Linked DNA regions of Homo sapiens. The protein of the gene in region 2 purifies or fractionates together with the protein of the main gene of each other region. This does not show direct contact. Each region holds a gene or a part of one and is shown on either strand. Other genes may lie near its edges.

Region 1 (4,175 bases), on a different chromosome or scaffold from region 2:
TCAACAGGTAATATTCTTATATTCTTTTATTTGATAAAGTATAGGCTACAATATTGAAAGAAGCATAATGTCAAAGATACCTGTTGTCCTGTGAAAATACTTACCTAATTTTTAGTCTTCTACATCAATGATAATAATAAGAGCTCACACTAATAAAACATTTAGTATCGACTGAAATTCCTTGATAAATATTAACTTGTTTCATTATCCAAAGAAAGTAAAGACATAACTATTATCAGTATCCTACATTCTGTGTACCTCCATAAAACATGTTGTGATAAAGAATTAGATATGCTGTATGTGAAGAAGAGGAGGTTAAAGAACACTGTTTTATGTAAATGTCTCATTCCTTATCCTACAGAAATTGCATTTTTAATTAAATCTTCCATTAATTTTCTAACGAATAAGATGATATTTTATAGGCATATAAGTATTGATGTACCTCCTGGTAAATGAAAGGTTTACTTCCTGCAGGGAACCAGTTACTGTTTAGATTATGCAGTTTGTCCAAAATTGCCTTTATGTCTCCAGGCCACATGTGCTTGGAAGCATCAAGTCTGAACCCTGCAACACCAATGTCAATGAGATGGTTCATATATTCGGCAATCTTAGAACGCACGTAATCCTTCTCCAGTGCAAGATCAAGAAGACCAGTCAGACGACAATCTCTGACCTGTTGAGGTAAAAATGTTATGATTGATTCATAAAACCTCATTTTTCTCCTGAGAATCCATTGGATTATTCATTTATTCCATGATTCCTCAAGAGATATTCTATAGTGACTTCCTTGCATTGGGCACTGGGGATGCTCACATTCTACTACAGATGTATCTTTGAAATATTTTCTAATAGAAAATAGAGAATTTAGGAAATAAAGTCGATGAGATTTTTAATTGGGAACTTCTTAGAAGTGGGCAAATGTGTATTGATTAAAAATCTTAAATCAATATTTGAAAGTTCTTAAATATGGATTTGAGTTTCTTAAAGTAGTCAAACTTGTTAACTTCTGTCCCTAAGAGATCTAAATTCCTATTTTAAATGAAATTCAATTAGCTACATGTCTACAAGAAAAGGCATATATTACTCTTTTATTCAGATCACTCTCGTAAAAAAATTACCTGAGTAGCATCATTGTAGTTCTCGATATCTCCACTTCCAGTTTTACATTTACCATCATTGAAATCCCATCCAGAATATGGGACTGCTGGAAAGTCCCTACTTCCAGGGTTGAAGTAACTTCCACAGGTACTGCTTGTTCCTGCACTCACAGCGTTACCACACATATGATTAATTACAGCATCCACATAAATACGAACCTAGAAAACAAAGTTTCTACTTCAGTGTGACTTACAGAGAGGTAGAAATTTAAAGCATTATTGATGCAAGTTTATAGTATGTTAATAAAACTCCAAAATATTTCATGATATCTTATAATTATTTTCCTACAAGATCAAAAATCAACTGTGAAAGGAAAGTAATGTGAACTAAACACCTACATGCCTTCTAGACACTTGGTCAAATATTTATAGGAATGATAAATTGAGAGACCAGAAACTACCATAAATAGGAGGAAATGCAAAAAGCCCACTTTGGGAAGACAAAACTCAGATGAGAGTGGAAAGGTTATTGTTTTGGAAATTTCAGTGGGTCACCAGGAGAAAGCCTGTACTCTCTATGAAGCTTTTGAAGACAAACAAGGTAGCTATTAATCTCAATTTATGCTCCTCATTAAATAGAGAAGCTAGCTATTCACCATGAAAAACCCAAGAATTACGGATGGAGACACAAGTCACCTAAAAATGATAGCAAACATTGTAACTGGAATTATACTTCCTAACCAGTAAATTGTTTCCGGGAAATACGAACAGTTATAAGGGTTAAAATTTGATGTTTTGCTTTAGAAGCAAATTCTGATTTAAACTTTAACTTACCTCTTTAGTAGATAGCACACACACAAATATTCACAAAAGTTGAACATAAATAAACAGTTAATTTTGAGTTTTAAATTATGAAGTAAAATTAAAAAAATAAAATACGGAAAATTTTCTGCTGAAAAGGAGCAAGAAAGAAGAGAGAGAAACCATTTTCCTGTCTGTTATTTTTAAAGGAAACTAGAATTCACTTACCCCAACATTGTTACATCTAGTCACCATGTTTCTAAATTCATCTTCATTTCCAGATCTTGTGCATAATTTATAGCTAACTGGTTGGTATCTTTCCCACCAAGGTCTGAAAGGGTTGTAAATTGCAACATTTTCATTTGGTGGAGAGACCTACAAATTAAACAGTCTTCATAAGTACCAAATTCTGTCTTACTGTGTATCATTGAATGTTCTAGAAACTAATCAATAGTATAAAAGATTCTTGAATCTTGGTATAGGCAGCTATCTCTTGAAAATATTAACAGCACATTGGAGGGCTCTTGGTGAAGAAAGATTATCTCAGAAACAAAATATAAAGTTGCCAAGAATACTACATAGATTTTCCCTCAGAAATCTCTTTTACTTAGAATACTTACCTGTGAAGTAAAATGTTGCCCAAGCTTCACAGATAAGATCAGAATACTATTTCCTACAAGCACAGTGAATTCCGCAATTGATACTATGAATCATACCCACCTGAACCCCTCCAAATCCCTTCGGAGCTAAATATCGCTCACATTCAAGAGCAATATCAACCCATCGCCATTCAAACAGATGAACAATAGATGTCCGTCCTTGTTGTGTATTTGGGGAATACTGAGCCCAGCAGAACCCAATGGTGAAAAGCAACAGAAAGAACTTCATTTTGCTTTGAAGTTGTCAGTGTCCTTTCCAGAAACTATTTATATTCCTGTAAGAAGCACATTTTACAAAGTAAATATTAGCATGAATAAATACTTGAGGGCAAACTGTTTATTCATAATCTGAAAAGGATTATCAATAATAATCCTAACAGGTAAAGAACATCAAAAAGTCTCTCATGGAAATCATCTAAATGACCTTTTAGATATTAATGTTTTTCTTAGGTTCTGGCAGCACTTTTATTTTTCCTTAAACAGTGACCTGTTGCTGGGGCCTAATGTTCTCACATAACAGTAGAAAACCAAAATTTGTTGTCATCTCTTTAAAGATCCAGAATGGCATACAAAAAAACTTTACATAAATTAAAAGGATGAATACTTTTACAGGTATAAATGCGAACCCCTTCCAACTCAAGGTAAGTAACAGCCCACGGTGCTCTGGTAGATAACGTAAGCTAAGAAAGGAAACTGGGTCCTATGGCTTGGACTTTCCAACCCTGACAGACTGACAGGACAGAAACAAGTGGTCCAGAAGCCCTTACCAGCCTCTAGACAAATCCCAGAACACTCAGCCCTGACACATTAATACCCTGTACAGATCAGAGACTGCTGGCCGCACAGACTCACCGAGCCAGACTGGTCTTCCACAAGCATGTTTTTAGCCATGAAGTGACCAAGCCACGTGTAGTAAAGACTGAAATCAAAGATATGTACAGATACCAAGGGCAACAGTTAACTTGAATACAAGGTCAAAATCAGCAACACATTCTACAATCCAGTGCTGATATTGAGAGGAGACAAAGACCCTCTCCTTGTTTTATATTGTTTTCTATTCAGTAAAAACAACCAGGAAGTACAACCAAAGACATGCAGCCCAGCGCCAGGCCTGAAACCAGGCCTGGGCCTGATTGGCCTAAACCCAGTAGCTAAAAATCAACTTATGATTTAGAAGCTGATATTATTCACAGATTCCAGACATTGTATAAAAGAACTCTGTGAAACTCCCTGCCCTGTTCTGTTTCTCCCTGACCAGCAGTGAATGTAGTCCTTGTCACGTATCCCTTGCTTGCTCAAATCAATCACGACCCTTTCATGTGAAATCTTTAGTGTTGTGAGCCCTTAAAAAGGACAGAAATTGTGCACTCCGGGAGCTCAGATTTTGAGACAGTAGCTGGCCGATGCTCCCAGCTGAATAAAGCCCTTCCTTCTACAACTCAGTGTCTGAGAGGTTTTGTCTGAGGCTCGTCCTGCTACAATGTCAGATACAAGCTTCAAGGACAACTTCTTTCCAAAGGCTTATTCCAGTTTGGTGCGGCTAGCATGTGGTGTATTTTTTAATTTACCTGACCAAATGCACAAAGGGAGAACACATTCTTTTTTTAATCGTCTATAT
Region 2 (2,591 bases):
GAAAAATTTTACTACAAACTGCAAAGGAGACTTTGCTTTCAGAATCCTGTAATCAATGCTTCTTTATTACTATTTTACTTTTTCTTTCCTTCTTTTTTTTTTTTTTTTTTTTTTTTAAGACAGGGTCTATTTCTGTTGCCCAGGCTGGAATGCAGTAGTACGATCTCTGATCACTGCAACCTTTGCCTCTCTGGCTCAAGTGATCCTCCCGCTTCAGTCTCTCAAGTAGCTGGGACTGTAGTTGCACACCACTAGGCCCAGCATTTTTTTTTTTTTTTTTGGTAGAAGCTGGTTTTTATCATGTTGCCCAAGCTGCTCTCAAACTCCTGGGCTCAAGCGGTTGGCCCACCTGGGCCACCCAAAGTGCTGGGATTGCAAGCATGAGCTACCATGCCCGGCCTCCTATAATCAATGTTTTTTTTTTTTTTTTTTTGAGAGGGAGTCTTGCTCTGTCACCCAGGCTGGAGTGCAGTGGTGCTAGCTATGTCGGCTCACTGCAACCTCTGCCACCCGGGTTCAAGCGATTCTCCTGCCTCAGCCTCCCGAGTAGCTGGGATTACAGGCGCCTGCCACCATTGCCGGCTAATTTTTTTTTGTATTTTAGTAGAGACAGGATTTCACCATGTTGGTCAGGCTGGTCTCAAACTCCTGACCTCATGATCCACCCACCTTAGCCTCCCAAAGTGCTGGGATTACAGGTGTGAGCCACTGCACATGGCCAATCAATGCTTCTTAATAGTAAGATTTATTTTAAAATTTGGATTGGGGTTATAAGACTTTCAGTAGTCTTGGATATTACCATCTTTATCCTGAATGAAAGTGTAGCAAGAGGCTGGGCGCAGTGGCTCATGCCTATAATCCTAGCACTTTGGGAGGCTGAGGCCAGAGGATCCTTGAGCCCAGGAGACTAACCTGGGCAACAAAGCAAGACCCTGTCTGTATTAAAATTACAAAAGCGTGGTAAGGATCATTTCCTCATTAACCTTGAACATCCAAACACAAACCATCAAAAAGAATCAACTTCAGAAAGACATTATTGCTTTATTGGTTAAGGTGATTAAAAGAAGGGGGCCCCTCAGGCCACAAAGATAATTAACTGATTGTCACAAACCATATTGAAACTCTTTTTTAAAAAGGGTATAGATAACTTTTAATTTACAATTTTAACAATCAAAGTAGCCAAGAGTAGAGTTTGCAATAGGACTAGAAAGTATTCCAGTGGCTCATATATAAGTGGGCTAATTTTATCTATTTTTAGGCCTATTAGGCCTGTCAGTCTGGATTTTCCATTACTTGGAAATGGGGACTGGGGAACAGATGCTTCTGGCCACTCTGAGCCCTGGCTTGATCCTTGGGTCTCATCTCTCTCTCTCTCCCCGTTTGTGCTTCACCTCTCAGCGGATACTTGGCTCTTATCTCAGGACCTGACCTCCCACTGAGCTCCAAGCCTGCAAAGCATGCTGCCACCCAGTTATTTCCCCCTTAACATCCTGCCATCACTTCAAATTTAATACCCCTATGCCAAAAAATCACTGACTCCTAATTTCACTTTTGTTGGTGGCACCAGTTTTATTCTCTTGGACACCTAAGCTCAAAAACAGTGGAACTTCTTTTGACTCATCGCTCTCCTTCCTTCCCTAGAAGTGAGCTACCATTTAAAAGTGATGTGCTCATTCTCAGCAAACTATCCCAAGGACAAAAAAATAAACACCGCATGTTCCCACTCATAGGTGGGAATTGAACAATGAGAACACATGGACACAGGAAGGGGGACATCACACACCGGGGCCTGTTGTGGGGTGGGGGGAGGGGGGAGGGATAGCATTAGCAGATATACCTAATGTAAATGACGAGTTAATGGGTGCAGCACACCAACATGGCACATGTATACATATGTAACAAACCTGCACGTTGTGCACATGTACCCTAGAACTTAAAAGTATAATGATACAAAAAAAGTGATGTGCTATCATCAGTCACCCGAGAAATGCAAATTAAAACCACAAGGAGTGCCCTTATGCACCCACTAAAATCGAGCAGACTGAAGGTGCTAACTGTTGCCTGAGGATATGGAGTCTCACACATTGCTGGGGAAATATAAAATGGCCTGGGCATTTTGGAAACCAGTTTTGGTTAACAGTAAATTAAATGTACACTTACCACATGACTCAATAATTCTACTCTTAGGATTTACTCAAGGAAAATAAAAACATATGTCCACACAAAGACTTTTTCACAAATGTGCATATCAGCTTTATTCATAATAGGCATAAGATAGAAACATCCAAATGTCCATCAATGGGTGGAAGAATAAAGTGTGGTTTACCCATGTAACAGAATACTAGCAACAAAGAGGAACTGCTGTTACCTGCAAGCAATGGATGAATCTCAAAATTATGTTAAACCAGAGAAGCCAGACACAAGAGAATACATACTATATGATTCAATTTCTGTGAAATTCCATTTCTACAAAAAGCAAAACTTACTCATAGGGGCAGAAAGTAGACCAGTGGTTCTCTGGGGCTGGGTCAGGGAGAGAGCAGCTGACTGCACGGGGCATGAGAGGGTGACGGCAAAGTTCTGCACCCTGA
Region 3 (2,886 bases), on a different chromosome or scaffold from region 2:
GGAAGAAAACCCAGACTACAAGGTGTCATGAAAGCCCTAAATAAATATCCAGATTGTAGAATAAGAAAAAGAACAAAAAGTCATATACAACAAGTCTAAGCAATTAGGAAAAAAATGAAAAAGAAGGAAGTCTATAAAGTAGGAGAAGATTCCAGTGAGCTCAATAGAACTGATAACTGTAGATTGTATAATTTAGGTTTCTTCTATTTTTTAACCTTATTAACACCAGAAGTACTTGCATATTATAAAAAGCATACAACCGGGCTAACTTTGCATGGGAATCAGCATTAAACCAGCTATCCCTAACTAACTGATAAAAACACTCCTTGGAAGGATTATAGAATGGCAGAAATTAAAGGTACACAGCTCGGTAAATGATGCTAATGGCAACAAACATATTGGTTGAGATGCTTTTCTGAGTTCATAGCTTAAATAGGTTAAAGTCAGTCTTCTAAAGCATAACAACTTGCTGACTATTATTATCTTACACTTATTCAACAATTAAGTGGGATTTTAATACTATTGGTTTTTTTGTGAATTTTACAAGTTGATTACTAATTAGAGCTTTTACTAAAAATTAATGAAATATAAGTATTACTGTATATGTAAGAAAAGAAACACACTTGGCTATTGTTTTGAGGATATGCATTTAATTTTAAATTTTATAATTTAGATTCAGCATGAATTGCAATAAATGGATCCTCAGCAGAGTTACTAATAGAAAAATGAGCTTTGCCATCGTCAGAAACGTAGATTTTAATGCCTGTGCAATTGCCATTAATTTTATCTCCAGAAATGACATCACAGTATGTGCCAGCAGGAAGACCAGTTTGCAAAGTTAAAGAAAATGTCCTGTAAAATAAAATTTCAGATTTAACTTCAATACACTGAAAATCAAGAATACAGGCTAACACAACTAAACAGCATAACTTTATGTTGTAGAACCCTAAGCAGTGAAGTCTCATTAAGAAGAAAACCCATATGCCTCCCTAGTAGTTGTAAATAGCTTTCTAGGACCAAAAGTAACCTTACAGAAAATGTAGCAGTTCCCTGGTCCGTAGTGAAAATATTACCAAAAAATCAAAGTTGAAGAATATCACTGAAGATTGGCAGGAATGGTCACACTTTGATAAAAGTGCTAGCTTGTTAAAATCAAATTTGTTCTCAACTGAACTTAATACAAATTACTTTTAAAAATTTAAAGGGTTACATAAGTATACATGTGCCATGCTGGTGCGCTGCACCCACTAACTCGTCATCTAGCATTAGGTATATCTCCCAATGCTATCCCTCCCCCCTCCCCGTACCCTAAAATTTAAAGTATAATTTAAAAAAAAATTTTTAAAGGGTTTTATTTTTTTAATCTCCTTTTTTCCCCATAAGGTAAAAAAGAATTTGGGGCATACATAGAAACAATCTAGCATTTCTATGAAGAAGTGATAGTTTGAAATATAAAGCTTTCTCACAAAAATTTATTTTGGTATTTTCATCCACAAAAGAAAGAAATTAAAGAACTAGACATGGGCTTTTTTGGCAGGAAAGAGATCAACTAGATTTATGTATTTATGTATTTATTTATTTTTCATCAGTGAAATATAATTTATACTAGAATGAGCTAAGTATGAGTATCAGTTGGCTTTGGACAGAGACAATTCAACTGTTTGCAACGAGGTCTTCTGAGCTATAGGTTAGGGAATCATTTATACTTCAGTAAAGGATATAAGAATCACAGATGAAAGGCCAATAATGAGAAGTTTCGGAACTAAAACTCAAATCCCCTGAAGCCAATCATTAACCACAAGATACATATTATTTATGCATATGCTTTAAAAATATTATTTGTCACAAGGAGACAGAGAAGTGAAGAAAGTATACCAAAAAACTACATAGAGCAGTCATTGAGAAAAAGAGTTAGAAATAAAGATATATTAGTACTCAGGCAGCATTTTTCCATGATTAAAAAAACAGGAATATAAGACATGTTCTTTTAATGATTTCACAATCCTCATATTAACTACTTTGTGTATTTTGTGGCATGTGTAGGTGAGCATATGTATGTGCATTCAATATATGCATAAGATATTGCAAGGGTGCACAGAAAGGACTCTGCTTACAACAGAAAGCCCTTAATAAAACAGGAGAATGAAGGAGTAACAGCCATCATCTTTTTACTTCTGCCCAATTTTGATGTCTATTGTCTTCTTGCTCCACTGACTACATGATTTTTCAGATATGATAAATGTCAATGAACAGAAAAAAAGGAATAAACCAAGAGCATACAGGTACAAAATATTATTTTTAATTGATATGTACTTACCAGTCATCATTGTTGAAAACAATGAATCCTCTGTTTCCTCTCCCAAAAGCCACTTGGTTGCTCCCATTATCATACCAGTTTGTAAAAGGCTGGCCATCCACTACATTGCGGAAATTAACCATGTTCCTAAAAACACAATACCATATAAAACGTTGATATTCTTAAACTTCAACTGTTTTAAATAAAATGCAATGGAAAGTTTACTATTAGAGGACATGTCTAAATACATATTCTCACCTTATTTGGCGCCATCGATGTTCACAGACCCAGTCATTGCCACAAGTAGTGTCTGGATTAATAGTAACTTCTTTAATTACTCCATTATTATTTGGTGGCCCAACCCAATCATTAACATCCTTAATTAGGGGGTGAAAAGCCAAATTTTAACATACATATATTTACCTCTTCCTTCTCCTTTAAACCAAACCCAACCTATCCTGTTACTTGTGTCTCTGCATTCAATGACTTTATCTAGAATCCAATGCCTTCAATAATTTTTATAGCCCTTTACTGGGTCTTCATCATCTCTCTATCCTCTGGTTCTCTTTTGCCATATTTCAAACAAAGGT

Evidence for each region.
Region 1: the proteins of ZNF843 (region 2) and AMY2A purify together in Homo sapiens (affinity purification with mass spectrometry; one large-scale study listed by BioGRID and IntAct). This does not show direct contact.
Region 3: the proteins of ZNF843 (region 2) and AMY2B purify together in Homo sapiens (affinity purification with mass spectrometry; one large-scale study listed by BioGRID and IntAct). This does not show direct contact.

The regions. Positions count from the first base shown.
Region 1 is NC_000001.11:103,616,052-103,620,226, reverse strand, and holds the start of AMY2A (pancreatic alpha-amylase precursor), read right to left. Parts: upstream 2,801-4,175; 5' UTR 2,787-2,800; coding exon 2,619-2,786; intron 2,274-2,618; coding exon 2,127-2,273; intron 1,317-2,126; coding exon 1,119-1,316; intron 674-1,118; coding exon 443-673; intron 1-442.
Region 2 is NC_000016.10:31,437,206-31,439,796, forward strand, and holds part of ZNF843 (zinc finger protein 843), read right to left. Parts: intron 1-2,591.
Region 3 is NC_000001.11:103,577,277-103,580,162, reverse strand, and holds the end of AMY2B (alpha-amylase 2B precursor), read right to left. Parts: intron 2,674-2,886; coding exon 2,555-2,673; intron 2,444-2,554; coding exon 2,318-2,443; intron 853-2,317; coding exon 663-852; 3' UTR 629-662; downstream 1-628.